Homo sapiens: one gene and its partners. The protein of the gene in region 1 interacts with the protein of each later gene in a pairwise test. Each region holds a gene or a part of one and is shown in the gene's direction. Other genes may lie near its edges. The genes, in order: SEC22A, RNF5, DTX2 and ELOVL4.

Evidence for each region.
Region 2: the proteins of SEC22A (region 1) and RNF5 interact in binary tests that used the Homo sapiens proteins (3 or more experiments, as listed by UniProt).
Region 3: the proteins of SEC22A (region 1) and DTX2 interact in binary tests that used the Homo sapiens proteins (3 or more experiments, as listed by UniProt).
Region 4: the proteins of SEC22A (region 1) and ELOVL4 interact in binary tests that used the Homo sapiens proteins (3 or more experiments, as listed by UniProt).

Annotation. Positions count from the first base shown.
Region 1 is NC_000003.12:123,197,659-123,204,964, forward strand, and holds the start of SEC22A (vesicle-trafficking protein SEC22a), read left to right. Parts: upstream 1-4,284; 5' UTR 4,285-4,328; exon of another isoform or gene 4,329-4,476; intron 4,477-5,430; exon of another isoform or gene 5,431-7,155; intron 7,156-7,306. UniProt on the Homo sapiens protein: May be involved in vesicle transport between the ER and the Golgi complex.
Region 2 is NC_000006.12:32,173,478-32,181,293, forward strand, and holds RNF5 (E3 ubiquitin-protein ligase RNF5), read left to right. Parts: upstream 1-4,927; 5' UTR 4,928-5,034; coding exon 5,035-5,174; intron 5,175-6,063; coding exon 6,064-6,082; intron 6,083-6,173; coding exon 6,174-6,286; intron 6,287-6,338; exon of another isoform or gene 6,339-6,399; coding exon 6,400-6,454; intron 6,455-6,531; coding exon 6,532-6,649; intron 6,650-6,751; coding exon 6,752-6,849; 3' UTR 6,850-7,316; downstream 7,317-7,816. Other genes in the region: AGPAT1 (1-acyl-sn-glycerol-3-phosphate acyltransferase alpha), read right to left, coding at 3,033-3,035; AGER (advanced glycosylation end product-specific receptor isoform 2 precursor), read right to left, coding at 7,666-7,762. UniProt on the Homo sapiens protein: Membrane-bound E3 ubiquitin-protein ligase that mediates ubiquitination of target proteins. May function together with E2 ubiquitin-conjugating enzymes UBE2D1/UBCH5A and UBE2D2/UBC4.
Region 3 is NC_000007.14:76,499,704-76,506,508, forward strand, and holds the end of DTX2 (probable E3 ubiquitin-protein ligase DTX2), read left to right. Parts: intron 1-737; coding exon 738-817; intron 818-2,501; coding exon of another isoform or gene 2,502-2,516; exon of another isoform or gene 2,517-2,531; intron 2,532-2,594; coding exon 2,595-2,753; intron 2,754-3,722; coding exon 3,723-3,884; intron 3,885-4,652; coding exon 4,653-4,742; intron 4,743-5,670; coding exon 5,671-5,898; 3' UTR 5,899-6,288; downstream 6,289-6,805. UniProt on the Homo sapiens protein: Regulator of Notch signaling, a signaling pathway involved in cell-cell communications that regulates a broad spectrum of cell-fate determinations.
Region 4 is NC_000006.12:79,916,534-79,923,555, reverse strand, and holds part of ELOVL4 (very long chain fatty acid elongase 4), read left to right. Parts: intron 1-1,759; coding exon 1,760-1,931; intron 1,932-4,008; coding exon 4,009-4,136; intron 4,137-6,672; coding exon 6,673-6,948; 3' UTR 6,949-7,022. UniProt on the Homo sapiens protein: Catalyzes the first and rate-limiting reaction of the four reactions that constitute the long-chain fatty acids elongation cycle.

The DNA of each region.
Region 1 (7,306 bases):
CTGCCTCAGCTTCCTGAGTAGCTGGGATTACAGGCATGCACCATCCTGCCTGGCTAATTTTTGTATATATACATTTTTTTTTTTTAAGATGAAATTTCACCCTGTCACCCAGGCTGGAGTGCAATGGTGTGATCTCGGCTCACTGCAATCTTTGCCTCCCAGGTTTAAGAGATCCTTCTGTCTCACCTCCCGAGTAGCTGGGATTACAGGCATGCACCACCATGCCCAGCTAATTTTTATATTTTTGGTAGAGACAAGGTTTCACTATGTTGGCCAAGCTGGTCTCAAACTCCTGGCCTCAGGTGACCCGCCCACCTTGGTCTCCCAAAGTGCTGGGAATACAGGTGTGAGCCACTGTGCCTGGCCTAGTTTATTTTCTTGAATCTATGGGTTTATATTTTTTATCAAATTTTGGAAAATTTTGGCCATTATTACTTCAAATATTTTGTATCACCTCTCCTTTCTGAGTCTCTGATTATACATGTTAGATAACTTTGTATTAACCATAGGTCACCAAGGCTGTGTTCATTTTATTTTAAACTTTTTTTCGCTCTGCACTTTAATGTAGATAATTATTTTTCACTGTTACTTTGTTTACTGATCTTTTCTTCAGCAGTGTATAATCTGCTGTTAAGCCCATAGAGCAAAATTACCAATTCAGATATTGTAGTTTTCTGCTCTAGAAGCTTGATTTGGTTCTTTTTATGGTTTTCATTTATCACATTATTTATGTTTCTTTAAATTCTTGGCCATATTTATAATAGCTTCTTTAAAGTTCTTATCTTACCTGCTTGTAACCCCAGTGCGCTGATGCCCTCTAAAACTTAAAAAAAAAAAAAAAAAAAAATTAAAGAAGAAAAGTGAAGTTCTTATCTGCTTTGAAAACTAATTTCATCATCCTTGTCATTTCTGGGTCTGTTTCTATTGACTGATTCTTCTCCCATTTGTGACTCATGTTTCAATGCTTCTTCACATGTGTAGTAATTTTTTATTGGATACTAGGCATTGCATATATTACATGGTTAAGTACCTGAATTTTGTTGTCTTTCTTTAAAGACTGTTAAGTTTCATTCAAGAAAGCAGTTAATTTACTTGCAAATCAGTTTTTTCAGCTTTGTTCGAGTGGGTTTAGAATAGTCTTTACTATTGGGCTAATTTAGCTTTAAAGTGTGGCCTTTTTAGGGTCTCTTTACCAAATGCTTCAGGTTTTAATAAGATTTAATAAGATTTCCCATTCTAATCAGTCAGAGCCTAAATGTTTCCAAACTCTATTCAAGTTCTTGTAGCTGTTCAGCTTAAATTTCCCCAGTAATTGTTATTTACCAGCCTCATACAATCTATCCTTAAAGTTATACCAAAGATTCACAGGAATCCTTATGTATATTTCTGGAGCTCTTTCTCTGGCACCCTGCCCCACAAATATCATTTGTCTCAATCTCTATTAATTCCAATTTCTGTGTCCTCAACAAACCCTGCTTGGCTTTCTTCTATCCTGTGCTTACCTCCAGAAAGAAATCTGTGGATATTCTGGGGACTCATCTTGTTTGTTTTCCTTCCTTCCAAGATCACAACTTTACTATGCCAGTTGTCCAATGCCTGGAAACACTTGTTTCATAGATTTGGTCCAGTTTTCCGTTACTTGTAGTGGAAGGTTTAGTCTGGTATCACTTATTTATTCATGGCTGGATTGCTCTTAACATTTGGAAAAACATAAACTTTCTATTCAATAGTAAAATACATACTGGAAAATTTCATAAATATAGCATACAGCTTGATGAATTTTCTTTTCTTTTTCTTTTCCTTTTTTTTTTTTTTTTGACACAGGGTCTCACTTTGTTGCTCAGGCTGGAGTGCAGTGGCACAAACATGGCTCACTGCAATATTGACCTCCAGGACTCAAGCAATCCTCCCACCTCAGCCCCACAAGTAGCTGAGACTACAGGCGTGCACCACCATGCCTGGCCAATTTTCAGAGAGGGTTTGGCCATGTTGCCCAGGCTGGTCTTGAACTCCTGAGCTCAAGTAATCTGTCTGTCTCGGCCTCCTTGGCCTCCCAAAATGCTGTGTTGGGATTACAGGTGTGAGCAAGCCACCATATCCAGTCCAGTGAATCTTCATTAATTGAAAACACCATGTAATCAACACCTGGATCAATAAGAACATTACTAGATCTCCAGTAGCCCCTTATTGCTCCTTTCTAATTATTAACACTAATAATTATAACTTATTGGTTACCCTTGGGTAACCAATATTTTACTTCTATTACCTTATATGATTTTTTATTTTGAACATTATGTAAATGGAATCATATAGTAATCTTTTTTGTGTCTGACTTATTTCACTCAATTTTTATGATTGTGAAATTCATGCATGCTTTGCATATGGTTGTAGATTATTGTCTTTCCTGTATAGTATTCTACTATGTGAATATTCTTCTTCCTTTTTTTTTTTTTTTTTTTTTGAGAAGGAGTCTTGCTCTGTTGCCTAGGCTGGAGTTCAGCGGCATGATCTTGGCTCACTGCAACCTCTGCCTCCCAGTTTAAGCAATTCTCCTACCTCAGCCTCCCAAGTAGCTGGGATTACAGATGCCTACAACCATGCCTGGCTAATTTTTTTGTATTTTAGTTGAGATGGGGTTTCACCATGTTGGCCAGGCTGGTCTCGAACTCCCAACCTCAAGTGATCCACCCCCGCCCCCGGCCTCCCAAAGTGCTGGGATTACAGGCGTGAGCCATCGCGCCTGGTCAGAATATTCTAAAATTTATTTATTTCATGAACATTCTTATACATATGTTTTCTGGTGAATATATGAATACATTTATGTTGAGTATATATCTAGGACAAAATTTATGTTAGTTCAGGCCTTTCTTCTGAACTCTAGACCTACATATCCAAATCTACTTGACATCTCCATTTATAGGCATTTCAAATTTAACATATTCCAAACCATTTGCTCCTCTTTCTGTGTTCCATGAGTCAGTAAATGGCTTCTTAATCCATCTAGTTACTTAAGGAGTCATCCTTAATATTCCTTTTTGTTGACCCTTCCCGGCAAACCAATCCGTTATGAAGTCCCTTGGATACCATTTCTAATTTATACATATCTTGAAATTATCTACCTCTTTCTGTCTCTAACTCCCATTACACTAGTTCAAGCCCCATCATTTCTGGCTTTGCCTGACGCAACTGCCTCCAAATGGCTTTCCAGCAGCCCTTCTTGCCCTTTTCCACACTATTCTCCACAAACAGCCTGAGTGATTCTTAAATATGCAAATAGGATCCTACTTAATAGTCTTTATTAGCTGCCCATTGACCTTGGGCTGAGATGAGACAAGGGCCAGACCATGCTGACTCTTATTGGCCACATTACAGATTTCAGGCTGTATTTTGGAAGATATCTTAAGGTCAACGGGCAAAGTTTCTCCTTGCTCCCTACACTCCATCCACACTGACTCCCTTTTAGTTCCTAGAGCACAAGAAGTTCTTTCATGCCCCGACAACCTCACACAATATTTCCTTGGCGGGGAACATTCTCTAAGGCTCTTCAATATGCCTGCCGCTTAAAAGGCACTTATTCAGAAGTCTTTTCCCTGATAGTCCAAAATTAATTGATCATTGCACCCACTAATTTTCCCTCCCAATACTGACAATTTGTAGTTCTGTAACTATTTATGCTTTAATATCTCTTGCTCCAATTACTCCTTAAATTCCATCAAGTGTTATGTCCACTCCTGTAACCCCGTGCTTAACACGGTGCTTGGCACATGGTAAACAGTCAGGAAATGCCTGTTTAATAATGCATGACCGATGCGAAGGCTGGAAGGGGTCGCAGGGTCAGCATCTGGCACTTCTCTGCCATGGTTAGTTTCCTTCTTGTGTGTGGGAATAGACGGGGCCAGGTCTTCTCCTTGCTCACCCAGAGGGGGCTTTTCTCCCTGTCCCCTTTATAAGTGTCTGCTGTAGGGCCGCGTGTGAGAGACAAAATGCCTGCAGAAACAGGGCGGCGAGCGGAAGAGATTGGCCCTATTTCTGAAGTCAACGTAGTTCTGTCATCAGAGGATGCTGTACTTTTCTGGCGCAGGTGCGAGAGAAGCTGCCAATCTCTCCTGGAGCGGGTGGGACTAAGGAGGGCCCCGGGAGCTGGGGGGTTGTTGTGTCCTTCCTGCAGAACCCGATTGGCCTGGGTGAGCTGAGGGAACGGGGGCGTGGTTTGATTCCGCGGGCGCGAGCCACGTTGGACGCGCCGCAGCGTCGCCGAAAGGTCCCTCCCAGGCCCCACAATGCACTTCGGGGCGCGTCACTCGGAGCGGCGGGTCCCGTCTCGACAGGTACTCCCCGGCCCCTCCCAGTCCTCTTCTTCCTTTCTTAGGGGTCGTTCGAATCCCTGCCGGCCTCTCCCCTCCCGCTCCCTGCCTCTCGCCACAGCCTCGGCCTTCGCCCTCGGGATTGAAGACCTACCCCACGGGCAGGAGCCAAGTCCGTGCCTTTGGGATGGGAGTCGGGGCCGCGGAGCTCTGGAGGGACGGGCAAGCGGGGACCCCGTCCCCTTCGACTTGAGGGTTCTCTGGGGCCAGGCGGGCGGCGGTTGCGCCTCGTCTGAGCCGCCTCGGGTGTTGGGCAGCCAGGAAAGGAGTGTTTGAAGGGGAGGGACAGTCGCACTTGGCTGTCAGCATGGTGGTGGGGATTCCCTGGCGCCCAGGTGTCAGAAACACGGTGATCTACCTGTGTAGGTGGCCCATGAGAGCTTGAGGTGGCATTTCCTATTTCTTTTAGGCAGAATGGGACTTGAACCAGTGTCTTACTTTACGTTTTGTGGGGATGGAGTGAGCCCTGAGCCCAGATATTTGCCCGCGTTGGCTCACGGAAATCTCTTGAGACCCTGTCTCAAGAGTCACTTTGGGAACGATGTGGCAGAAGGGAGACCTGAGCAATTGGCTCGGCAAGTGGAGGAGGCTTCCAAAAGAAAAGGACAAGCCCCAGCTGGCTTGAATCTCTCTGCCAGTGAAGACAGCTTAAGATAATTTTTCCCTGCTGCTTAGTTTCCTGGATCATCCACCTGGGGCAGGGGGCGAGCTTGAGAACCAGTCCCTCCTATGCCTATTCAGCCAAGGCAAAGCCTAGCCCAGAGCAAAAGTATCAGCCACCAGACTGGAGATGTTGGGATCTTCAGTCAGGGGAACAGCCACTTTTCAAACTCTGAATCACTTTCCATGTTACTGATATTTGCTTACATGCTAAGATTGTAAGGAATCAGGCAATGCCTTAAACGGTACCTACAATTTCTGATATATTAAGGTTCATTCAGTATTTGACTCTGACACCTGTGACCATATCCTAAAGTAATGGGACATTCGGGTATTTCCTATGTTGAAAACCATCACATCTGTTTAGTGCCTTTTTTTTTTTTTTTTTTTTTTTTTTTTTTTTTTGCGTGCAACTGGTTAAAATCGAAGTATATCTTATGTTGGTATATGAAAGAGGCCTAGGTCTTATCACAGGGGTGCCTGTGACCTTCCTTGAGTGTCTCACAGAGTTGTTAGAATTGGGCCTGAGTTTAAATCCCTACTTTGTCACCTACTCGTTTAGGGATTAAAAAAAATTCCTCAAGCTTTCTGGGCTTGAATTTCCTCAAAGGTAAAATGGAACTAATAATACCTATCTCACAGGTTTTTGGAACGCTTAAATGAGGTAATGTGTATAAAGTGCGTGGTCCATGGAGAGTAATCAATAAATAATACAGCAAATATTTAATGTAGTGCTTTTAGCATGTTACAAGGCAATGTTTCAGGCACTTTACATGATCCTATGAGATAGATACTATTGTCATCTTTAAAACAAGCCTATGAGATAGATGCTATTAGTAGCCACAATATATAGATGTGGAAATTGAGATATAGAAAGGCAAAGCTTGTCCAAATTTACATGGCTGGTAGATGGTGGAGCCAGGATTAGAACCCAGGCAGCAAGTGAATAGATAGTTTCTATATCCCTGGTTTCTTGTGTCTTGTTGGTTTTGGGAGACTGATGAAGCATAGTGATGTAGAGATACTAGAAACTTAGACCGAAGTACCAGTTCTGCTATATACTAGCAGTGTGACATTGAGAAAGTGAGCCTTAGTTTCCTCATCTGTAAAATGGTGGTTTTACCTACCCAACCGTGAACTATGTGGCACTATAAAAATGTTGGGATTGACACATTTGAGCATGTATTGGGGGCCCTGTCCTAGATGTGGGTAAAATCTGTTGTGAAGCCTGAGGTCTTATACATACTGTGCAGTGCAAGCACCCATAATAGGAATGTCGAACACTGCTAGTGAGGTAGAAGGCATAGGCAAAATGGCGGAAATTCCATCCCCTTTATCACCCACTCTATCCCCCACCCTCAGCGAGCACTTTTAATAAAATAATATGTACCATATTGGTATTGTTTCCCAAACTTTGGTACTGTCACATATGCAAGATAATTTGATAAGCAAATGAACATTAAAAAATTCTCCCCAAATTTTCACACACATACATATTTGAATGAAACAAGTTCATTTAATTTAAATTAGGAGAAAAACTTAACATCTCAAAACTGATTTCACAGATATTATTGCTAAAAAATAAAGGACAAGAAAAGTAAGTCAATTCAAAGACCAATATTAGGTAAATAGTACAGGTGGATGAAGATAATTCTGAAAGTGGTACTTGGATGACTGAAGACTGGGAAGTTATGAACTAAAATAAATATGAGTGCTTTTGCCCCCAGTATAAAATGTTTTTATCTTAAAAGTGGCATTTGTGAAAGCATTTGGTTAGAACGTATATACAAAATCCACTTACATGTTGGGCTTTGTTTATTACCTTTTGAGAGATAACTTCCTGAGACATTGAGCCTGTAGTCATTACCCCTACAAGGTTCTGAAGAAGAGGGGTGTCTTATTATCTTGGGTCCAGGAACTTGCTAACCACTACTATAGTAGTTTGGCATTGTGGGAATTTATTTTCCTCAGCCTTTACATAAAAGTTTACCCAGATTTACCTAGATTCTAGCTTGTGCTTTTTCCTCCAACAGTTGCTGATGGGGAGAGGAAAAAATAGCCACTATTCAGGTTCCCTGTGAGTTAACTGCTGCTGTACAAAGGCAGGTGTAATATTTTCTCTGTATTAAAGGTGAGGAGAAATGGCCCAGTGCCCTAAACATTTATCTATGGCCCCGATAAGCTAAAAACTCCTAAATCTTCCCATGCAATTGTTGTAATCTCTTGCTTTCCACAGTTCCACTGGTTCTTCCTTGGGATTTTCCCAACCACAACCCTCCTTA
Region 2 (7,816 bases), on another chromosome or scaffold:
CACGTAGCAACCACAGAGATTTTTCTGTTAGCACAGATTTTTCTGAAACACAGAGCATTTCCCTGTCTTGCCTAAAGGCTCTTCTTGATAAGTTGACTTCTGCTTACATCTTCGACCACATCCTCACAAAACTCTTTGTTCCAGTCAAACTGATTCACTTCAGTTCCTCAGACACCATGATCTTTCATGCTTCCCCACCTTGAACATGCTGTTCCCTTTGGCTGGAATGCCTGTCTCTTCTCCTGCCTCACACAGCTCAGTGTCACCTTTTGGAGGGCTGCCTGAACCCCTCCAGGCCTGTGCTTTCCTTACACTTTTATCTTGATCAGCGGGTCTCGAAGTATAGAAATGCAAATTATTAGACTTCACCCCAGATCTACTGAATCAGAAATTCTGGGCATTAGGTCCAGCAATCTGTTTTTCTTTTTCTCACTCTGTCACTCAGGCTGGTTTTGAACTCCTGGACTCACGCGATCCTCCTGCCTCAGCCTTCCAAACTGTTGGGATTACAGGTGTGAGCCATCGTGGCTGGCTAGCAATCTGTATTTCAACAAGCCCTCTGGTGAGTCTGATGTGCGCCTGAATTTAAGAACCACTGATCTTGACAACACACTATGTGTTGACTGGCGTTTTTGTTTCCCTCCTTAGGCTGTAAGCAGCTTAAGGACAGGGACTCTGTCTTATCTCCAGTGCCAGGACAATAGGAGATGGAGTAGGTGCTCAATAAACACTTGCTGAACAGATTCTAAGGCTGTATACCCACCCATAGAGCCACAGTTAATGACAGAGATGGCGGTTCTGATCACAAATTAGATAGTTATCCTCTTGAGTAGAAGTGACTACTAAAAGAAGTCACTGAGAAAGTAACGAACACACCAAGCCTAATGGTAACCGACTCTGAATAGATACATGCAATACATAGCCATAATGAAGGCAGAGTAACAATAATCAGGAAGAGGTCATCTCACAAGAGAAATGTACCGAATGGGATCAAGATGCCACAGGGAAAGATGCTGCTCTCATCAAATGTGTGCCAACAGTGCAAAGAATGGAGGATAATGTCCATAAATAAATACCAACAATGGGGTTCACAGCAGGATTGACCCTGTGACATGCATTGAGCTCATGGACACAGACTGTACACAGCCACTGGAAAGATAATGTTTGTGTAGAGAGGTATGGGCCAGGGAGGTCACCAAGGTAAGGCATGCAGGGATGGTTCTTTGCAGACCTGGAGACCCAGTTACCTTCTTCTCTTAACACTTGATATTAAGTGACCCTCTTTGGAGAACAAAAGTCCAAGGATTTAGAAATGCAATGGAGGGCCAAATTTAATGAGCATACGGCTCACAAAATATACTGATGACAAATTTATAACACACATTCTATGGTCCTGTTACATCAGTGTATCATGCAAAGGCGCATACACATGTGTTCTGTGAACTGTGACTGGGAAAACACAGCAAACAGGCCAATTCAGTCAGACATCAGAGTGTGGGGTATTCAGCCAAGCCATGGGATCCCACACATGAAGACTACTGCAAATGGTAGGACCATGGACATGTCAGCCAAAGCAAAATAAGGTATATAACCTTCACATGCTGAAATAAACATGCCAAAACATAAAATGTGCAAGTAACATGAAATTATAGAACAGGTGCAATATATGAAAACTCACACACATGCGGTACTTAAAACATGTCAAAACTGGATGTGAGACATGGACACAAGAATGAAGAATGGGCAATTCTGATAGAAAATAACACACCATTTCTACACAGCCTATGGATAGCATTGGGACAACCTAGTTGCACACAAGCCATTAAACATGTCAAAGGCACACAGACTCAATGTAGAAAACATGGCTCCCATAAGGCATTTGTGTGTCAGTAAGGGTCTAGCAGTGTGGAAGGCCACTGAGAAACAAGAGGTCCTGTGCCTAGATGGAAACAGAGGCACCTAAGGGTATTCCTAAGAGGCAAATTCTGCTGGCCTTCTCCCCTCATGACCCTTCAAGAGTCATGTGGGGTCAAAGGGCAAGAAAAGGAATTGGGGAAGGTGTAGGGAATTCCCTCTCCAGGATTCCCTGTGCACGCTCCCAGTCCCAAATTCACAAGGGTTTCCATTTCTCCTCCCTCCCAGGTCTCTTCCATCCTTCCTCCCTCTCAGGTCCCCTCTCCTATCCCCAGCAACCCTCTTCCCAGTCGGCCCCTCTCCTTTCCCCAGCAACCCTCTCCCCCAGTCGGCCCTCCCAGACCCAATCTCTCCCCTTCCCCTCATCCTAGTCGCTTTCAGCACCCTCTTCCCTCCTCCTCCCATCCCTTTCCCGCCCACACCTCAGAGGGGTAGGGGGCCTGGGGGGCTGGCCCCCTCCCCAGCCAGGCTGCGGCAGCGGTGGTGGCGGATGGCTGTGTCTCTGTCTCTGTCGGGGTGTCGGTGCCAAGGGGGCGACGGGATTTGGGGGTGTCCTAGCCCCGGCCGATGGAGGGGAGGTGGGAGTGGGAGGTTGGGCCCATAGCGGTAGGAATGGTGGGGGGCTGTCCCCCCAGCACCCTCCCTCCCTCCCTTTCTGCTGTCTCTCTGAGGGCTGGGGCTGCTGCCGCCGCTATTCCCCCGCCACCCCTCCCCAACGCCTGCTGGTTTCCGGGGCCGGCCAGGAAGTGGAGGGCGGTGATGGGCAGCCTGTTTTGCCAATCGTCTCCCAGAAACTCTGGCATCTCCTCCCCACATCTACCAGTGTCCTCTTGCGAGCCCCGCCCCAGGGCTCTCCCTCGGTCTTTGCCCCCATCTCTGGCTCCAGCTGCATCTTTTTTTTCTCTAACTCCCTTTCAGCTCTGGATCCCCTGGTGCTGTATTCCTCCTTCCGCACATTCCTTCCTTTATTCTCCATCAGCTCTCTTTTAACTGCCACTTTTACTTGGTCTCTTTTTTTCTCAACTCCGGTTATCTGCTGCTTATTCCCCCCAACTATTCTTAAGGACCCCTTTTCCCGTACCCATTCAATTCTAAACATTTATCAAGCATCTACCTACCATATGACAAGCATTAAGTTCACCTCTCTTCTTTTTCTCTCCAGGACTCCATCTCACTCCATCTCACTCTCCAGTCCTCTGGTCTGGTTTCCTTTGCCCTTTGTCCCTCACTATCTCCCAGCAGTCCAGCTCCCCCCTCCACCTGCCTTCTCTGGCCTTTAAAGAGAAGAGATCTCTTTGGCCTTATCCCTGACCCTTTCCTTTTCCATGCTCTTTTACCTCTGTACCTTTTCTTTCCTACTTCCTTCGTATCAGTCTCCTTACTTGCCCAAGCTGAGACAACCCCTTCTCACAACATACAATATGGGTACATCTTTTCTTCCAATGGAAATTTGGCTTCAGGGGTGCTTTCTAGAAAAATAAAAAGTGAGGAAGAATGCCGATTCCTCTGGAATGCGCGTGCCTCCTTAATTTGGTAGCCATGTATCTAGTTTTCCACCCCCTCTTCTCTTCCTCCACTCCCATTATCCCTTTACTAGGATCATTCCATCACTTCACTCTCCTTCATTTCCACCTTTCCCTCTCAATATCTTCCTTCCTAAACCTCAAGCTTCCTGAATCCTCATCTGCCCCAGTCCTTCTTTACGCAACTGCTAACTTCTCATCTTTCCTTACTCTTGAGTCACATGGGATCTTTTATCAAGGTCCCCCCTCTAGCCACACCTTTACCCTGCATTAGTTTACATGCCCTCGGGAAGAGGATTGGTAGTGGGAGGACTGTTACCTAATTCTGCTCCTTTAGTCACAGTGAGGGTCAGTGATTGTAGGAAAAGCCCAAACTCCCCGGGGTCCAACCTGGGAAGAAGACCCTATTTCTGATGGGCAAATTATAAAGAGGAAAGGGCGGGTCTAGCCTCCGCGGGTCTCCTTAAAAGGGGCGGGCTTTGTCCCTTTTGCACCACTCACAAAGGGGTTGAGCCCAGAGCTTTCCTGCTCTGAAGGTTTAAAACGGAGTTGAAGTCAATCCTGTTCTACTCTGTGTACAACATTAAGAAAGGGGTGGGCCTTTAGTTCAGTTTTGCTCTGTAAATCACCTAATATGGGGAGGGCTGAGTCGTCCAGCCGAATGAGTTGGGTTAACACCAGCGCCGCAGATCGATGTTCCCACTATCCAAACGTCGGGCTAATCCCAGTTCTGCTCCCTTAACTAAAAGGGAGGGGCAGACCCAAGTTCTGCTCTCTACGTCACCAAAGGAGGTTGGAGCCATTTTGAACCCTGCGACCCTAGTGTTTTCCCTCTTTTCCTAGCTCTTCGCCGTCTTTCCCGATGTCGGCCAATCAGGGGAAAAGGAAAAGGCCCAATCAGCAGAAAGTCCACAGCTGAAGGACCCGGATGAAGCGAGCCTAGGACTTTGAAGTGCAAGCCTCGCCAATTGTAGAGCAGTCACCATGGCGACAAGATAGGGGTGAAGAGGTGGAAAAAGAGAAGGTTAAACCCTCACAGGATTGGCCCACCCCCGTCCCGCCGCGTGCTGCGCAGGCGCGTTTTACCTAACCACCATTTTCCGTCAAGTTTTAGCCAATGAGTTGATTTGGAGCCATACGCTCCAAAGTCCAATAGCAATCCGGACATTCTCTAAAAGAGGAAGCGAAGGAAAGAAAGGGGCTTATAGTGGGCGAGGTCTATAGGTAGTCCCGAGCAAATTGCTTATGGCTTTGGTTATGACTGACAACTACTCAGACGAATAAAGCCCTCCTTGGCCAGGCGACAGCGTGTAGCGAGTTATTACCAATCCCTTGGCATTGCACATTGACTTAGACCGTATCAGCCAATAGCCATTGTGCGAAGGCAGGACTGCACTAACCTTTTCCCGCCCCTACCCTTTGGGCCAATCCTTTCTTTTGAATTCTTTGTGACTGGCAGGCATTCAGACCAATAGTGATTAGGAAACCTTGAAGCCTGCCCAACGATCGTGGGCAGGAGGTGGTTTCTGGTTTGTTGGGGCGTGTGTATGTGTATTTGGGGGGACTGAAGGGTACGTGGGGCGAAACAAAACCGGCCATGGCAGCAGCGGAGGAGGAGGACGGGGGCCCCGAAGGGCCAAATCGCGAGCGGGGCGGGGCGGGCGCGACCTTCGAATGTAATATATGTTTGGAGACTGCTCGGGAAGCTGTGGTCAGTGTGTGTGGCCACCTGTACTGGTGAGAATCGAGGAGGGGGGCGGGAGGTGGTGGGTCTCGCTTATATACTGGAGAGGCTAGGAGCGAATAATCATACAGTCATACAGATAATCGGAGGGCACGTTCCCATAGGTGAAGCCCGACAGGAGACATAAGACTTTGCTGGTATGTGTGGGTGGGAGTATAACGGTCGAGATCTGTGGAAAGAAAGGTCTTAGGAACCAGGAGCTGAGGCACGTGATGTGCTGAGAAGAGAAGGTGGGGCGGGGAGTGGCAGGACAATGTGAGACCCGAGCCACCTTACCCCAGAGAAGTGAGGGGTCTTAGCTGTGCAGGTGGAAACAAGTGAGACACAAAGGTTAAGGGAGGCACGCATCAGTTGAGTCGGGGAGAACCAGGAAATATGGATCACATTCAGATGAGATCTGGGAGGGGGCTGGTATAAGGGCACTGTGGAGAGGCAGACTTGAAAGGTTAAAGGGTCATAAAGATAGGGACATTATTGAGCTTGAAAGTGAGTAATGGGGGAATGTGCTAGTAAAGGGGTTTGGTTTGGAGTGATGGGGTTGGGGTTGAAAAGAGGAGACCCAGAAAGAGGTGGCTGAAGGAAATTAGAAATTAACTTGAAAGGCAGAAAAGAGAGGGCACGAAAATTTGTATGTGTTTGTTGGGGAGAGGAGAAAGGAGAGGGTTGAGTGTGTTGAGGATGGACAGAGCTTTAGGTGTTGGAAGATCAGACAAGCAGGAAGGCTAACTAAGTTGGCTGGCATGGTAGAGGTTGCAGAAAATCTGAAAAGCAACAGCAGGTTGCTTGGGAAGAGGGGTTAGATGGGATTCTGCGAAGTCTAGGGTCTGTGTCTCTCTTTTCTGTAGCTAGTTTGACCTTTTTTTTTTTTTCTCCCCCATCCAGTTGGCCATGTCTTCATCAGGTGCGTACTCAGGAGATGAAGAGGGAAATGGGGAGGTCTGAGGAGCTGTAAGACCCTCTTGTATACTGGAAACCACCTTTTTTCTCCCCAGTGGCTGGAGACACGGCCAGAACGGCAAGAGTGTCCAGTATGTAAAGCTGGGATCAGCAGAGAGAAGGTTGTCCCGCTTTATGGGCGAGGGAGCCAGAAGCCCCAGGATCCCAGGTGAGAGACTGGAGGTGTTGCTTAGGGAAGATTGAAGGCTTCTGCCCTTGGAAAACGGTGTGGAAGATGGGAGGAGAAAAATCCCTGTTAACTTTCTCTCTCCACTTCCTCAGATTAAAAACTCCACCCCGCCCCCAGGGCCAGAGACCAGCTCCGGAGAGCAGAGGGGTGAGTCTTCTTGTCCAGTTGTGTCCCTTCCTTGACAGATTTGCCGGCTTCCTGTCTGACTTTTTCTGCCTCCCTAGGGATTCCAGCCATTTGGTGATACCGGGGGCTTCCACTTCTCATTTGGTGTTGGTGCTTTTCCCTTTGGCTTTTTCACCACCGTCTTCAATGCCCATGAGCCTTTCCGCCGGGGTACAGGTAAGAGTCACACTCAGCTCCCATCAGGGAGCCCTGTGAATCCCCTCAGGCCCCCTCCCAGCCTAGGAGCATATGCTTCCACAGCTTTCCTCTCTCCCACAGGTGTGGATCTGGGACAGGGTCACCCAGCCTCCAGCTGGCAGGATTCCCTCTTCCTGTTTCTCGCCATCTTCTTCTTTTTTTGGCTGCTCAGTATTTGAGCTATGTCTGCTTCCTGCCCACCTCCAGCCAGAGAAGAATCAGTATTGAGGGTCCCTGCTGACCCTTCCGTACTCCTGGACCCCCTTGACCCCTCTATTTCTGTTGGCTAAGGCCAGCCCTGGACATTGTCCAGGAAGGCCTGGGGAGGAGGAGTGAAGTCTGTGCATAGATGGGAGAGCCTTCTGCTCAGAGGCTCACTCAGTAACGTTGTTTAATTCTCTGCCCTGGGGAAGGAGGATGGATTGAGAGAATGTCTTTCTCCTCTCCTAAGTCTTTGCTTTCCCTGATTTCTTGATTTGATCTTCAAAGGTGGGCAAAGTTCCCTCTGACTCTTCCCCCACTCCCCATCTTACTGATTTAATTTAATTTTTCACTCCCCAGAGTCTAATATGGATTCTGACTCTTAAGTGCTTCCGCCCCCTCACTACCTCCTTTAATACAAATTCAATAAAAAAGGTGAAATATATTGATGGGATCTCTTCCCAAGTTCGCCCCCACCCCCGACAGAAGCATCTTCTCCCCAACTTGAGTAGATGTTTGGTATAGTATGGTGAAGTATGGGGGTGAGTCCCTTTCCTTCAGGGCCCTCAAGGGTATAGGGGTGAGGTTGTGTCTCATACACACACACAGACACACAAGAGCAAGATGTGTCAGGTGTTTAATCATCATTGTGGGGGGCTCTGGTTGTAGAAGAAAGCTTGGCAAGGTGGGGTTATACAGGAGAGAGATTATACAGGAGAGAGTTGGTCTGAGGCCAGAACAGTTCAAGGGAAAAAGAAAAGGGAGCTGATGGATGGGATCTGTCTGTGGGCCCCTCAAGGCCCTCCAGTACTACTCTCGCCTGCCTCAGGTTCCTCCGACTGATTCAGTTCTGCACGCTCCTCCTCTTCCTCCTGGTTTTCTGGGGCCTTCCTGAGGAGAAAGATTGGGGGGAATGCGGCACGTTGTCGTTCCACCCCCCGACCC
Region 3 (6,805 bases), on another chromosome or scaffold:
CACCAGCTCAGGAGCTTCTTGTCCGTAGGAGAGGCTTTACTGGATGTGGGGTTCGGTGTTTATGGAGATGCAGCCCTTCTCCCTCCAGCTTCGTGCACGTGTGCACAGACAGCGAGTGAGGCCGTCAGGGTGGGCTCCTGCCACGTCTTGGCCCCTCCCCAGAGTCGCTGGACTTAGGAGCTAGTCTGCATGTGACAGACCTTCCCAGTCAGTGGCAGGCGTTTCCCGGGACAGTGTCTGTGTGGCGGTCGGCGTGTGTGCAGCTGCCTGTACATGCTGGACCCCAGACTCCCTTGTCCCTGTGATGTTCATGCCAGGGTAATGCAAGTTGAATCAAATCGTGGTGCCACAACGCCCCCTGGAGTAGTTTGTGCCCGAAGCGGCTGTCTGACTCTTCCGCGCAGCCTCAGAAGCGCCGGGGTCGGTTCCTCACTCAATGTGCGCGGGGATGCGGCTCCCAGGAGACTGTGCTGCTGTTTCTGCTCTTCTGCATCCTCCATGGCTCCTGGGGCTGAGCCGGGTCCCCGGACGGTGGGACTGGGGAAGGCTTTGCCCGACGGAGCTCGGGGCTCTGTGCCTGGCGCTGAGCTCTCCCGTCCCGCACACTGGCCTCCCTGTCTGGGCCCCTCTCGCATTTCCTCCTGGCAGCTTAGACCTCTTCCTTCCCTTCCTCGCCCTCTGGCCTCCTCTCCAGCCTGTGCTCCTCAGGACGCTGCTTATGTACTTCTCTCTTCTAGGAGCGACCCCGAAGCCAGAGCCAGAGCCAGAGCAGGTCATAAAAAACTACACGGAAGAGCTGAAAGTGCCCCCAGATGAGGTTTGTGTCTTGGGACCTTGGCTGCCTTTGTTTCTGTTTGGAAACAACTCCACATGGAAAGGACATCCGCCCCATCTTGCTTGAAGGGTGCTTCCCAGGTGCCTCTGGGTGCCAGGGCCTTGCTCCAGCCCCTTTGGTTTCATCTCCCAGCCTCCCGAGACCCACATCGTTATGGTCTGAGCTTTGCACTTAAGGAGCTGTGGTCCTGAGCAAAGCCCCTCCTCTCCCGGCCCTGGCCTCTCCATAGCCTGATGGCCATCCTGGGAGCAGGAATTCCAGAGACAAGGGATGGGCCAGCCTGCCCCACTCTCCACCTTGCGGATGCTGGTGTAGAAGTGAGGTGGCCTCGTCCAGGTGGCTGTCCTGCCCCCCGGCTATTGGGAGAGCTGGTCAAGGTTCTTATAATTTTTTTATTCTTAAAGACGGGTGCACACTGTCGCCCAGGCTCAGTGCAGTGGCGTGATCACAGCTCACTGCAGCCCTGTCCTCCTGACCTCCTGTAATGAACAGGACCAATCAGACTCCTGTTGCGCTTCCATAGAACCTGAACCTCTACTGAGCCACGTTTTGGGGGCTGCAGCACCACTTTCCCCTGATTTTAGCTGGGAGCCCTGGAGATACTGTTGGGGGAGGGGGTGGGTGAACGGCCGGGAGTACCAGTACCCAGAGATCTTCAGATACTTGGGGGCGGGTGGAAGGCCAGGAGCCCCAGTACCCAGGGACTCTTCACTTGTCTCTTTCTCCAGTCTGTTGAGTCCATGAGAAAAATCTGGTAAGTAAAGGTTTGGAAAGGAGCCTGAACGTCCTCCTCATGTGTCCCACCCCTTCCACAAGCCCTTGCCACATTCCCGCCTGCCCAGCGCTCAGCTCTGTCTCGGCCCTGGTGTCCATCTGGTGTGACTGGGCCGTTTCACCCCAGGCTCCTCCTCTCCAAGCTGCCGTCTGCACAGCCAGCACGCAGCTTGGATCATGGGAGCACTCCCTGCCTGGAACCGCCAGCAGGACCCCCAACTCACACACAGCCCCAAGCCCCTGAGTGTGGCAGCCAGACCCCCGAGGGCGCGCCTCTCCCTGATCCTGTCTCATCTCCTGCTCCCAGCCCACCCCCTGCCAGCTTTAGTGCCCATGAGCTGGCTCCTCGTTCAGAACGTCCTCCTCCCTCTTCCGGGTGCCCACTCTGTGCTTGTCCATCTGGCAATTCCTGTCTCCCTTGTAAGACCCCACGCCGAGGGCCTCCCCCAGGATCCTGCCCTGTCCGTCCTCCCCATTTGGTGGCTTCTGCTGTCATGTCGGGCCTGTGCTGCTGGTAAGCCCTTCAGAGGCACAGGTCCCGGTGACTCACCTGTGTCTCCAGCCTGTGGAATGGACTTTTTTTTTTTTTTTTCTGAGACGGAGTCTCGCTCTGTCACCCAGGCTGGAGTGCAGTGGCACAATCTCAGCTCTGCAACCTCTGCCCCCTGAGTTCAAGCGATTCTCTTGCCTCAGCCTCCCGAGTAGCTGGGATTATAGGCACCTGCCAACACGCCCAGCTAATTTTTGTATTCTTAGTAGAGATGGGGTTTTCCCGTGTTGGCCAGGCTGGCCTCAAATTCCTGACCTCAAGTGATCGGCCTCCTAGAGTGCTGGGATTACAGGCCTGAGCCACTGCGCCTGGCCTCGGAATTGACTTTGACTGCACTTCCAGCATTTCAGCACATGAAAGCCTCTTTTTCCAAGACTGGCCCACGTCAGCCCAGCCCACTGTTGGCGAGCATGACCCATGTTTGGTCTCCTCCAGGACTGCATCATCTGCATGGAGAAGCTGTCCACAGCGTCTGGATACAGCGATGTGACTGACAGCAAGGCAATCGGGTCCCTAGCTGTGGGCCACCTCACCAAGTGCAGCCATGCCTTCCACCTGCTGTGCCTCCTGGCCATGTACTGCAACGGCAATAAGGTGCCCCCACTGGCCCAGGGCGGAGGCGGGTGGCCCGCCCCCACAGTCCTGAGCTGTCCCCTGCAGGGGCGGGAGGGTTCCGGGGGTGGCTGTAGGAATGGGCCTCTGCAAAAGATGGTGCTGGGCGTGGGGCCAGCTTGAAGACCTTTCTAAAGGCCTGGCCGGCTCTCCTAGGCCTGCCCTACTCTTCTAGGTCTGCCCCACACTTTAGAAAGGAGGACCAGTGCGGCTGGTTCCCTCCACCCCTCCAGCCAGGCCTGAGAAGATTCTGGGCTTCTCTGAGCCCCAGGGCACCGCCTCCCCCTCGGCCACTTGTAAGCACCGCAGACACTGTCTCCCTTCTTCCTTACAGCATCCCTGTGCAGTCAGCACAGTGCTCATGAGGGAGAGGCTCAGAGCAGGGGCTGTGCCCAGGGTCACCCCACTGGGAGGTGGGAGCCAGGCCTTGAGGCAGGGCTGATCCTGGGCCCCACAGCAGCCTACACATGAAGAGCCGCGCCCAGACTGACCCCCAGCTGCTCTCCCTGCATCGGCCTTCAGGCGGGATGGGCAGAGTTTAGAGGCTTAGAGAACCGAGTCATGTGGCGCATCGGAGCCTGGCTCGGCCTTCCCTAGTGTCTGCCATCCTGGGCAGCCAGGGCCCAGCTCCGCAGATCAGACGCTGCAAGGCTGTCTATCCGACTGCAAATGCGATTCACCCGTGGAGATTTCTGCTCAGGATCCGAGTTTTCCCACTCGCCACCTGTCTCCTGATAGCATGTCCCTTAACGAAAATGGCATGAGTTGCTGGTGCAAAACAAAGCTTTCCAGGGAAGCTGTTGGAAGCCAGTTTCCGGGCAGGAGGCTGCCAGCAACTCCCTGGGATGGTGGCCAGCCCATTCCCGGGGCCCTTTACCATCTGACGGTGGAGGTGACGGTCTTGGGTGTTCTCAGACTGCCAGCTCAGTGGGTTGCGTCTGCCTCTGTCAGGATGGAAGTCTGCAGTGTCCCTCCTGCAAAACCATCTATGGAGAGAAGACGGGGACCCAGCCCCAGGGAAAGATGGAGGTATTACGGTTCCAGATGTCGCTCCCCGGCCACGAGGACTGCGGGACCATCCTCATAGTTTACAGCATTCCCCATGGTATCCAGGTGAGGGGCCTTCTTGAGTCCCCCACTCCTGGCCACTCCTCTTCCCACCCCGCCCACATCCCAGCAGTCTGCCCCTGGATCAAGGCTGAGGATGCCCATGTGGCCAAGCTCAGGCCCCCAGGTCCCCTAAGGCCAGAGCCATGGAGGGCCGGGAATGGGGAGGCAGTGCCGGGGCTTAGGGTAAGCTCTTAGGGCTGTGGCAGCAAAAGGCTGGCCCTCCACTCTTTCCTGAACCAAGGAAGCCTTCCTAGAGGAGGAGCCATCTTAGCTGGACTTGTTCTGGGCAGAAGGGCAGGCAGTTCAGTGGGAGGAACCCTGCGGAGGGGCTGGAGAAGCGGGGCCACAGCAGGGTGTGCGTCGAGGAACCTTGGGTTGGGAGTGGCAGGGCCAGGCGTGTGGGTGTCAGGAGCCCAGGCACAAGGCCCCAGAGTCCCAGAGGAGACTCAGACGGGCCCTAGCCCTTTCGGTCTCCTGTCTTGAGCCAAGGTGGATCGTAGGGCCTGGGGCAGGGTGGGAAGATAACGGGGCAGCAGGCAGCGGGCACTGGCTGCCAGCCAAGGTCCACCTGTGGTGGATGGAGGCATCTTTTTGTCTTGTTGAACCATGAGCCTTTCCCCTGGTTTCCCTCCACTTCTCCACAGCTCAGAGGGAAATTCAGGAACATTCGGGGTTGGCATCTCGGAGCGGGGGAGGAGCTGGAGCTGTGCAGGGGCCTGTCCCTGTGCGGGCTCTCGGAGCACCCTATCCTGGTGTCTGTTCCTCCCGCAGGGCCCTGAGCACCCCAATCCCGGAAAGCCGTTCACTGCCAGAGGGTTTCCCCGCCAGTGCTACCTTCCAGACAACGCCCAGGGCCGCAAGGTGAGTGCCACCATGCGCCCGGGGGGTGGACGGGGCCCTGACCAGGCGGCAGGAGGCCAGGCGCCACACTGGACTCTGCTTCTGCAGCGGAGGACAGAGGCTGAGGCCGGGCCGAGTGTCTGCTGCTCTTTTCTGGGGACCTGCTGTAGGTACAGGGAGGGCAGCCTGGACCTCACATAGCCTCGAGGGAGGAGGAGAGGCCATCACCTTCCAGCACCCTGCCGGGTGGGGTCAGGAGCTCCTGAGAGTCAGAGTGTGACAGGCAGGGACCGGGGGCTGTGTTAGACCAGGTGACCACGGAAGGCTGGAGCAGTGGTGTCTGCACTGAGACATGAATAGGGACTTTGTGGCTGCAGAGAAGGTTGGGGACGAGCCTTCCAGGAAGGCAGGATAGTGGGAGCCCGTGGTGTGGGTGTGAAGACAGGGTGCCCCCCAGGCCAGCACCAGGGGTAGAGCTGGTTCTGAGCGCCCAGCGAAGCCACGGAGGTGGAGCTGCTGATGGAGCTTTGGAAAAGCTCTGGCCGTGTGAGAATGGGCTTGAGGTGGCGGAGCTGGAGGCGGGGAGAGGGCAGGGAGAGGGCAGGGAGGCCTGGATTCCACCAGGGAGGGTGGGTGGGCGGGCGCTCGTCCAGCAACGGCTGTGGAAGCAGGGAGGACTCGAGCATGGTGCCTGGGCATCAGGACCAAACGGATGGCAGTGCCAGGCACTGAGGCGGGGTGGGCTGGAGCCCAGGTTCATGTGGGATCCTAATGTACTATCCAGTGGGCAGTTTTGGGGTCCCTGCAGATGGGGTGAGTGCCAGGGAGTGGATGAGTCACCTGGGAGGGGCTGGGATGGGAAGAACATGGTGCCAACCCGTGCCTGCTCACTGAGCCCCTCTCACTCTCCGTCCCCTCCTTCCTCTTCCCCCTCCTCCTCCCCGGGCAGGTCCTAGAGCTCCTGAAGGTGGCCTGGAAGAGGCGGCTCATCTTCACAGTGGGCACGTCCAGCACCACGGGTGAGACGGACACCGTGGTATGGAACGAGATCCACCACAAGACAGAGATGGACCGCAACATTACGGGCCACGGCTATCCCGACCCCAACTACCTGCAGAACGTGCTGGCTGAGCTGGCTGCCCAGGGGGTGACCGAGGACTGCCTGGAGCAGCAGTGACCTCGCACCCCAGCACGCCCGCCTCTGGTGGCCACCCCGCTGCCCCATGGCTGGCTGGGTGGCCAGGCAGGAAGTGCCCAGCCCGAGAGGCTGGGAGGTTTGTTGAGGGTGTGGGGTGTGCCCCACCTGAAGCCGGGGCTCCCCCTGCCTGCCTCTCTCTCCTCCTCCCCTCTGGGAATTGGGCAGCCCTGGGCAGTTGTACTCATGGGGGCTTAGGATGCAGCTACCTCAGTGCGCAGGGCCCGTCTGTCCTCTGGGGGCTGCTTCGGGCCCGCGGTGCTCGGGGCCTGGTGTGGGGCGAGTAGAGACTTCCCCAGCCTGGACGGGCGTGGGTTCTGGGTCAGCTTCTTTTACCTCAATTTTGTTTGCAATAAATGCTCTATAGCCAAAGCCAGCAGGTCCTGAGTGTGTGCATGCATGCGTGTGTGCGCACTTGTGTGTGTGTGTGCCCCCCCCCACTTCCTGCATCAGAGCAAGAGGGGGTTCCATGGGCTCATCGGCTCCCATTTGATAACTGAAGAACAGGCCACAGCCAGGCATGGAGGAGCCCACGGTACTGGGCTGTGCGGCCTCCACATGCCCTACACTGATCTCCCTGCCATGCCAGAGGCTGTCACCCCAGAGCACCAGCTGTCACCTTTGTGGCCCTGGGGTTGTGGTTCACAAAATGCCATTCACTTAGGATTGGAGCTGCTGTCTCTGTTTTACTGATGTGGAAACAGGTTCAAAGGTGCAATGACTTGAACCAGGCATGGTGACGCATGCCTGTTATCCCAGCTGCTCAGAAGGTCGAGACAGGAGGCTCACTGTAGTCCAGACATTTGAGACCAGCCTGAGCAAAATTGCAAGACCTCATCTCTAAAAAAAAAATTAGGCCAGGTGCAGTGGCTCACGCCTCTAATCCTAG
Region 4 (7,022 bases), on another chromosome or scaffold:
CCAAAGAATCTCTTCAGTTGGAGGGCTGACTTCTTGCTTGCCGTAGGGAAGGGAACAGGGATAAGTGTTTGACTGACTGACTTCTGGGAGTATGCATAGAAAAACCCTTGGGTGGGGCAACATATTACTATTTTTAGGATAAAGGTTTAAAAATACCACTCTCACTTACAGATGTAAATTTTCAAGTCTTTAAAAAATGAGCTATTATGAGAACTGTAATCTAGGAGGATAAAGAACCTGAGATTTGCAACAGATTTCATTTGAAATCTTCCTCGTGCTCTCTTCTCCTCTCTAATATGGGATGCAATAGAGTGAATATTTTACGCAGAGACTCATTTCTGTATTCATTGTTACGTAGCCAAGAAGTATCACTTTTTGGTGTAGTTTATTTAAAGATATCTAGTGCAGTTTGCAAACTAAGCAGACTTATTTGTTGTTATTTTATGTGAATTGTGGCAAATGTAGAGGTCCAGATAGAGGAGAAATAAGAGATTGTATCTTTCCTTCTAGTTAAAGGTTACGATGCCAAAATGGTGACAGTTACTTTATTTTAAAGAACTAATATAATAGTGAATATTAACTATAGTGTTGCTGGGAGTAGTTAACTATTTCAAGCTTATTTTCAACCAATTCATATCATTTTTAATGATATTTTTCAAGTAAATTCAGTAAATAATTCTCAGTTTGTAAATACTTTGTTTCTTATATGCTTTCTGTTTCTTCTTTCCCCATACTTTAAAATTATAATTTTGTTTTTCAAATGCAAAAGCCAAAACAAACAAAAATCTCATGACATATACCAGGTGCAGGTATAAAATGCAAAGGGATCCTTCAACTCTAAAACACCTAAGCCTGTCTGTGAATGAATCTGACAGGGCCCTAACACATGAAAGCTTATAAATAGATTTTAGTTATGTACTGCCTTAATTGTTATTTGCACATAGGATGCTTATCATAGAAAATACTTGACATAAAAAATTAAGTTTGGTTTACTGTTACAGTAGGATTCTTGTAAAACATTTTAAAACATACAGAGGTCACCTCTCACTGGATCCTTAATCTCAGTATGTAATGTAATCTTTCTGTACCATCTGGTGCCTTAATTAGAGCCCAGGAAAAGAAAAGACTTATTCATGTAAGCAGGATTATATTTATGACCTGGGAAATATTTGTTTGTTCATTCCAATTTTTTATTTTAAAGATTTAATACCTAATACAAACTGCTGTGATTGGATATTTATGTTGTTGCACATATTGGTGCAGTCGGAGAGGTGAGGGAGAGAGGGAGGTGAGGGGAGAGGGTGGGCAGACAGGCAGACACTTGTAGAGACCAGTTGCTACATGAACTTACTTGCAAGTTTTTCTGAGGTAGTATAATGTAGGCTAAGCATGAACAACTAAAATCATTTTACAAAGTAAACATCTTAGTTCCTCTACCAAGTTGAAAAGCACAGCAGTCTGAATGTGCTTCCAGCTCTGTATTCAGCAGTTTGACACTATGTAACATCTACCTATGGAATAGACAGAAAATGTTCTCTAACTTATTGGCACTGTATAGATAGAGCTTTGGACTCTTTCTTTTCTATTTTTCCCCATGGAGAGATGCTTAGGTTTTTCAAACCTACTTAGCCATTAATGATTCCATGCCTTGTACATTTTGTGCAATATACAAATGTTTATTTTGGACTTACTTACAATGAGTATAAACCCATACAATAGTGTCATTTTGGTGTTTATAACACGCTTTCCCTTTTTACAGATAGCTGCTGCTCTGTGGTGGTACTTTGTATCTAAAGGAGTTGAGTATTTGGACACAGTGTTTTTTATTCTGAGAAAGAAAAACAACCAAGTTTCTTTCCTTCATGTGTATCATCACTGTACGATGTTTACCTTGTGGTGGATTGGAATTAAGTGGGTTGCAGGAGGACAAGGTGAGCATTTTCAGGAATATACTGCTTGCGTTTAATTGCATATATGTGTTCAGTGGAAAGCAATGAGAACCTAGGACTTTGACTTGATCTACCATTTAACTTGCTTTCATGGTTAATCATTTCCATGTTCATTTCTTTTTTTTTTTTTTTTTTTTTTTTTTTTTTGAGATGGAGTCTCGCTCTGTCACCAGGCTGGAGTGCAGTGGCGCGATCTCGGCTCACTGCAACCTCCACCTCCCGGGTTCCAGCGATTCTCCTGCCTCAGCCTCCTGAGTAGCTGGGACTACAGGCACACACCACCACGCCTAGCTAATTTTTTGTATTTTTAGTAGAGACAGGGTTTCACCATGTTGGCCAGGATGGTCTCGATCTCTTGACCTTGTGATCCGCCTGCCTCGGCCTTCCAAAGTGTTGGGATTACAAGCATGAGCCACCACACCCAGCCATCATTTCATTTTTTAAAAAATTTGAGGCAAGTATAACTTTTGCTTTTTATCTGTGACTACTTTAATACCTAAAGATTTGCCCCAGAGATGAGCATAAACCAAGACTAAAGGTAGAAAACAATATTTTGATGGGGAACGGGTCTAGTAGTTCTGATCCAAAGAATACCAAGACACAGCCCCTCAAATCTGAAGATTTCCATCTTAGCCCATAGCTCACTCCTGCCCTAATACAGATTGAACATCCCTAATCTAAACATCTGAAATCCAAATGCTCCAAAATTCAAAACTTTTTGAGCACCAGCATGATACCACAGGTGGAAAATTACACACCTGACCTCATGTGATGGGTCACAGTCAAAACACAAGTGCAGAACACACTTTATTCAGTATACCTAAGGGAAAAAAGACCCTCTTAGCCCTTTTCCATGTACAGCATAATGTTGATGCCAAACAACCACAGATAATGTCCACACGGGTGACATCTTTGCTTTCTGATGTTCAGAGTACACAAACTTTGTTTAATGCATAAAATTATTTTAAAATTTTATAAAATTACCTTCAGGATACATGTATAAGGTGTATATGAAGTTTTGGATTTAGACCTGAGTCCTATCCCCAAGACACATCATTATGTCTATGCAAATATTCCAAAGTTTAAAAAAATCTGAAATCAGAAACACATCTGGTCCTGAGCATTTTGGATAAGGAATACTCAGCCTGTATAGGTCTTGTTGGTTCTTATTCAAAGGAAATTTTATATAGCCTTGTTAATGTTAAAGAGGATCTAAATTCATAGCTTGGCCAAGATCTGCCTCCTGTCTTTTCAGATGCCTGTAGATTAAGGATGATTCACATTGTTGAGCTTGATGCAGATTATTCCTCTGAGGAGGATCCAGGGTACAAGTCATTATAGTATAGTTCACCTTGCTGCTTTCCATTGTCATATTATGATAATTGGCAGCTTAGGAATTCATACATATATTATTGGGGGCCCAGTTTAAAACAATACAGTTAAAGGCAACTTCTGTAATTTTAAAAGAAAATTAGTAAATCTGAACTGACTTAGATCACTTTATGACAAAAATTAATTATTATTACATCTATACCTTGATTAAATTAATATTCTGAAAAGAAAGAATGTCATTGAGTTTGACTGACTGGAATATCTCTGTAGATTTATCTATATTAAATGAATTATTCAATGTGTGTAGTGCTGTCATATTTTAAACTATTTAGAAACCTAAGAAATAAGTACTGTTTTGTTGCAGATATATATATTGGCACATCTAAAGGCAAGAATAGTAGAATTAAAAGTAACATAGGCAACAGTTCTAAGGGCCTATTTAAGCTCACTGGAGTACTCCATTTGAAAACCTACAACTGTGAAAGTCCTTTGCATTTGAACATACATTTTTATTTATATGGTAAAACCTCAAATCTAAACTTTAAAAATATCTAGCTTAATCTGAAGGGAAAACTTTTTCATTAGTACTACTTTATATTTTTCATTTCTAATCTGTACTCAAGATTAAATATTAAAAAATAATGTGTATTCATTTATTGTACATCTCAGTGGCTTACTGCCTAATAAAATTTTCTGTATCTTGTAATTACCTGTTGTTTTTCTAAAGCATTTTTTGGAGCCCAGTTGAATTCCTTTATCCATGTGATTATGTACTCATACTATGGGTTAACTGCATTTGGCCCATGGATTCAGAAATATCTTTGGTGGAAACGATACCTGACTATGTTGCAACTGGTGAGTTAAATGCTTCCAAAGTTTCTTCTGGTAAAATACTGAAATTGTTTAAATTTGATTAATTTTAAAGTGCAATGTCATTTTAGACAATTTTCTATTATGAAATTAACTTTATCCTCCAGCTATATCGCAGTTATGCCCACTTGACTCTAGATGACCTATTCATAGACTTATTGGTCCCAGCAAATCTTTGTTTTTATAATATGCTTAAAAGACTAGACATAGCCCTTACTCCTCTAAGGAAAACATTCTCTAAAGATGTTTGTGGAAAGGATGATTAAAGATCTAAGCACGCTACAAAGTACGTAGTATGAATAGAAAAATAATATGTATTTTTTCCCTACAGGTGATTTTCTTAACTTAAAATTTTATTACCTTTCTTCATCTTGTCCTTGCTTAAAAATTTTGTTTTTTATTTCATTTTTCAGTCTTTAACATATCTCATATATTTAGACTAAACAGCTGAAAAGAAAGCACATAGCCAAGGAAGGGGTGGGGCAAAGGAAGGGAATAAGGGCAAGAGAACTCCTTGTAATTCTCTAAAACACTGTCCTTAAGAGAGCAGAGACAGATATTTTCAAATGGTGGTCTTTAGTCCAGACAGTTTTCAGCACATCCCGCTAGTAAGACTGTTTGTGGCAATCTGAGTGTGTGCATTAGTGTACCTTTCAGATGCTAGGCACTAGCCTGTAATCAAACTGGAAATTCAAAGCCAACCTGGTAACTATTTTTCAAGCTTTAGAATTTATTATAATTTGCTTTAATCATAGCATGTGCACAATTTTATCAGTGGAATCACATTTGGAAATAATATTCATCTTTGCTTTAAGTTGCTAAACAGCTGGCTAACCAAACAGGAAGCACAACTTTTGGGAAATGCTGGGTGCGAAGGATTCATTTGTAACCGGAGTGGTATAGGAAGCTTCCTCCAGTTTTTGTGTAAAAGCTGTTAACACAGTTTGTGTAATTCATTTCTCTCAGTAAGTAGTAAATGGACCTAAGAAAATGAAGAGGTGATCAAAATCATGTGAATTAGTCCTATCTGGTTTGTTGGAGCCTACACCTGGCTCTCCTTGAGTGATGCCATACCCAATCACACCCTTATACACACCCTTTTTGGTGATGCAGCTTCTAAAAACCATTGTGAAACCACAAGTTCTTCAAATTAAAATATTTGCCAAGGAAAATTATAAAAGTTTAATATAGTATAAATTTTTAGCTTACATGGCATACATTATTTTAATATTTAAAATAAGTAATACTGATTATTTTAATCAATAATTAATATTTTAAGAACAATGCTATCCTTAAAAGAGAAACCACAATTGTCCATTTCAAACAGGATGTTGAGTTTGTATTTCCAAGCCAGAAGTTCCCACAACAGTTAGTCATATAAGTTAATTGTATAAAAAGTTAACCCTTGTTAACATTATGTCTTGACCCATTCTTTTATTGATACATCAGAATCTATTTCATTTTAATCATCTCACTTTGGGCTTTTTTCCTTTTAAAAATTCTTAAAGTTGAAAGTGATTCTTTTTGTATTTATTCTGAAATATCTACTAAATTTTATCCAAATATTATTTTTTTCTTTTTTTGGGACGGAGTTTTGCTCTTGTTGCCCAAGTTGGAGTGCAATGGTGCAGTCTGGGCTCACTGTAACTTCCGCCTCCTGGGTTCAAGCTATTCTTCTGCTTCAGCCTCCTGAGTAGCTGGGATTACAGTCATGGACCACCACACCTGGCTAATTTTTTGTATTTTTAGTAGAAATGGGGTTTTACCATGTTGGCCAGGCTGGTCTTGAACTCCTGACCTCAGTTGATCCACCCGCCTCGGCCTCCCAGAGTGCTGGGATTGCAGGCATGAGCCATCGCACCTGGCCATCAAAATATTAGTTTTTAAAGGATAGTGTTCGTTCAAATAAAAATTTACCTGCCTACTATCTGTAAGAAATAAATGAGCCATTTTGATAAGCTCATTTTAAGTATGTGTATCTGCTTGCTGACAATTTGATAGAAAGAAACCAATGTAAAATGTGGGAGGAAAACAAAATTGAAGAGCCTACAATACTATTACTTTACTCTCCTAGGCCATTGATTCCCTTTCATCAGATAACATTATTCAACACATATTCATTGATCCTGATGCTGTGCTGAGGACTCAAGAATCACCGATGGGCAAGACAAAGCCCTGCCTTCTAGAGTCATTTTCTAGTGGAAAGATAGGCAATAAAGAAATAACAAATACAGAAGACAATTTCAAATAGGTATAATTCTCCTTAAAAAAAATGCAGAAAGCTCTTTGGTTAATGGGATTGGGAGGGCCAATTGAAATTGAAGTCTTGTCAGAGAGTCCTTACTGAGGAGATGGCATTTGAGTTGTGAATGAGGAGCTAGCCATGGGAGCCAGAAAACAATAAATTTTGCACAGTGTGGCAAAATTTGGGCCTGTGATAGCTATGTAGAAGATGCCGATGTTGTTAAAAGTTGTTTACTATTCAGATTAAATGTTTTGTGCTGTCATTTCTGTTTTTCAGATTCAATTCCATGTGACCATTGGGCACACGGCACTGTCTCTTTACACTGACTGCCCCTTCCCCAAATGGATGCACTGGGCTCTAATTGCCTATGCAATCAGCTTCATATTTCTCTTTCTTAACTTCTACATTCGGACATACAAAGAGCCTAAGAAACCAAAAGCTGGAAAAACAGCCATGAATGGTATTTCAGCAAATGGTGTGAGCAAATCAGAAAAACAACTCATGATAGAAAATGGAAAAAAGCAGAAAAATGGAAAAGCAAAAGGAGATTAAATTGAACTGGGCCTTAACTGTTGTTGACAGTGAGGAAAAACTCCCATATCATATAAAATTTCAGGGAAAACAGA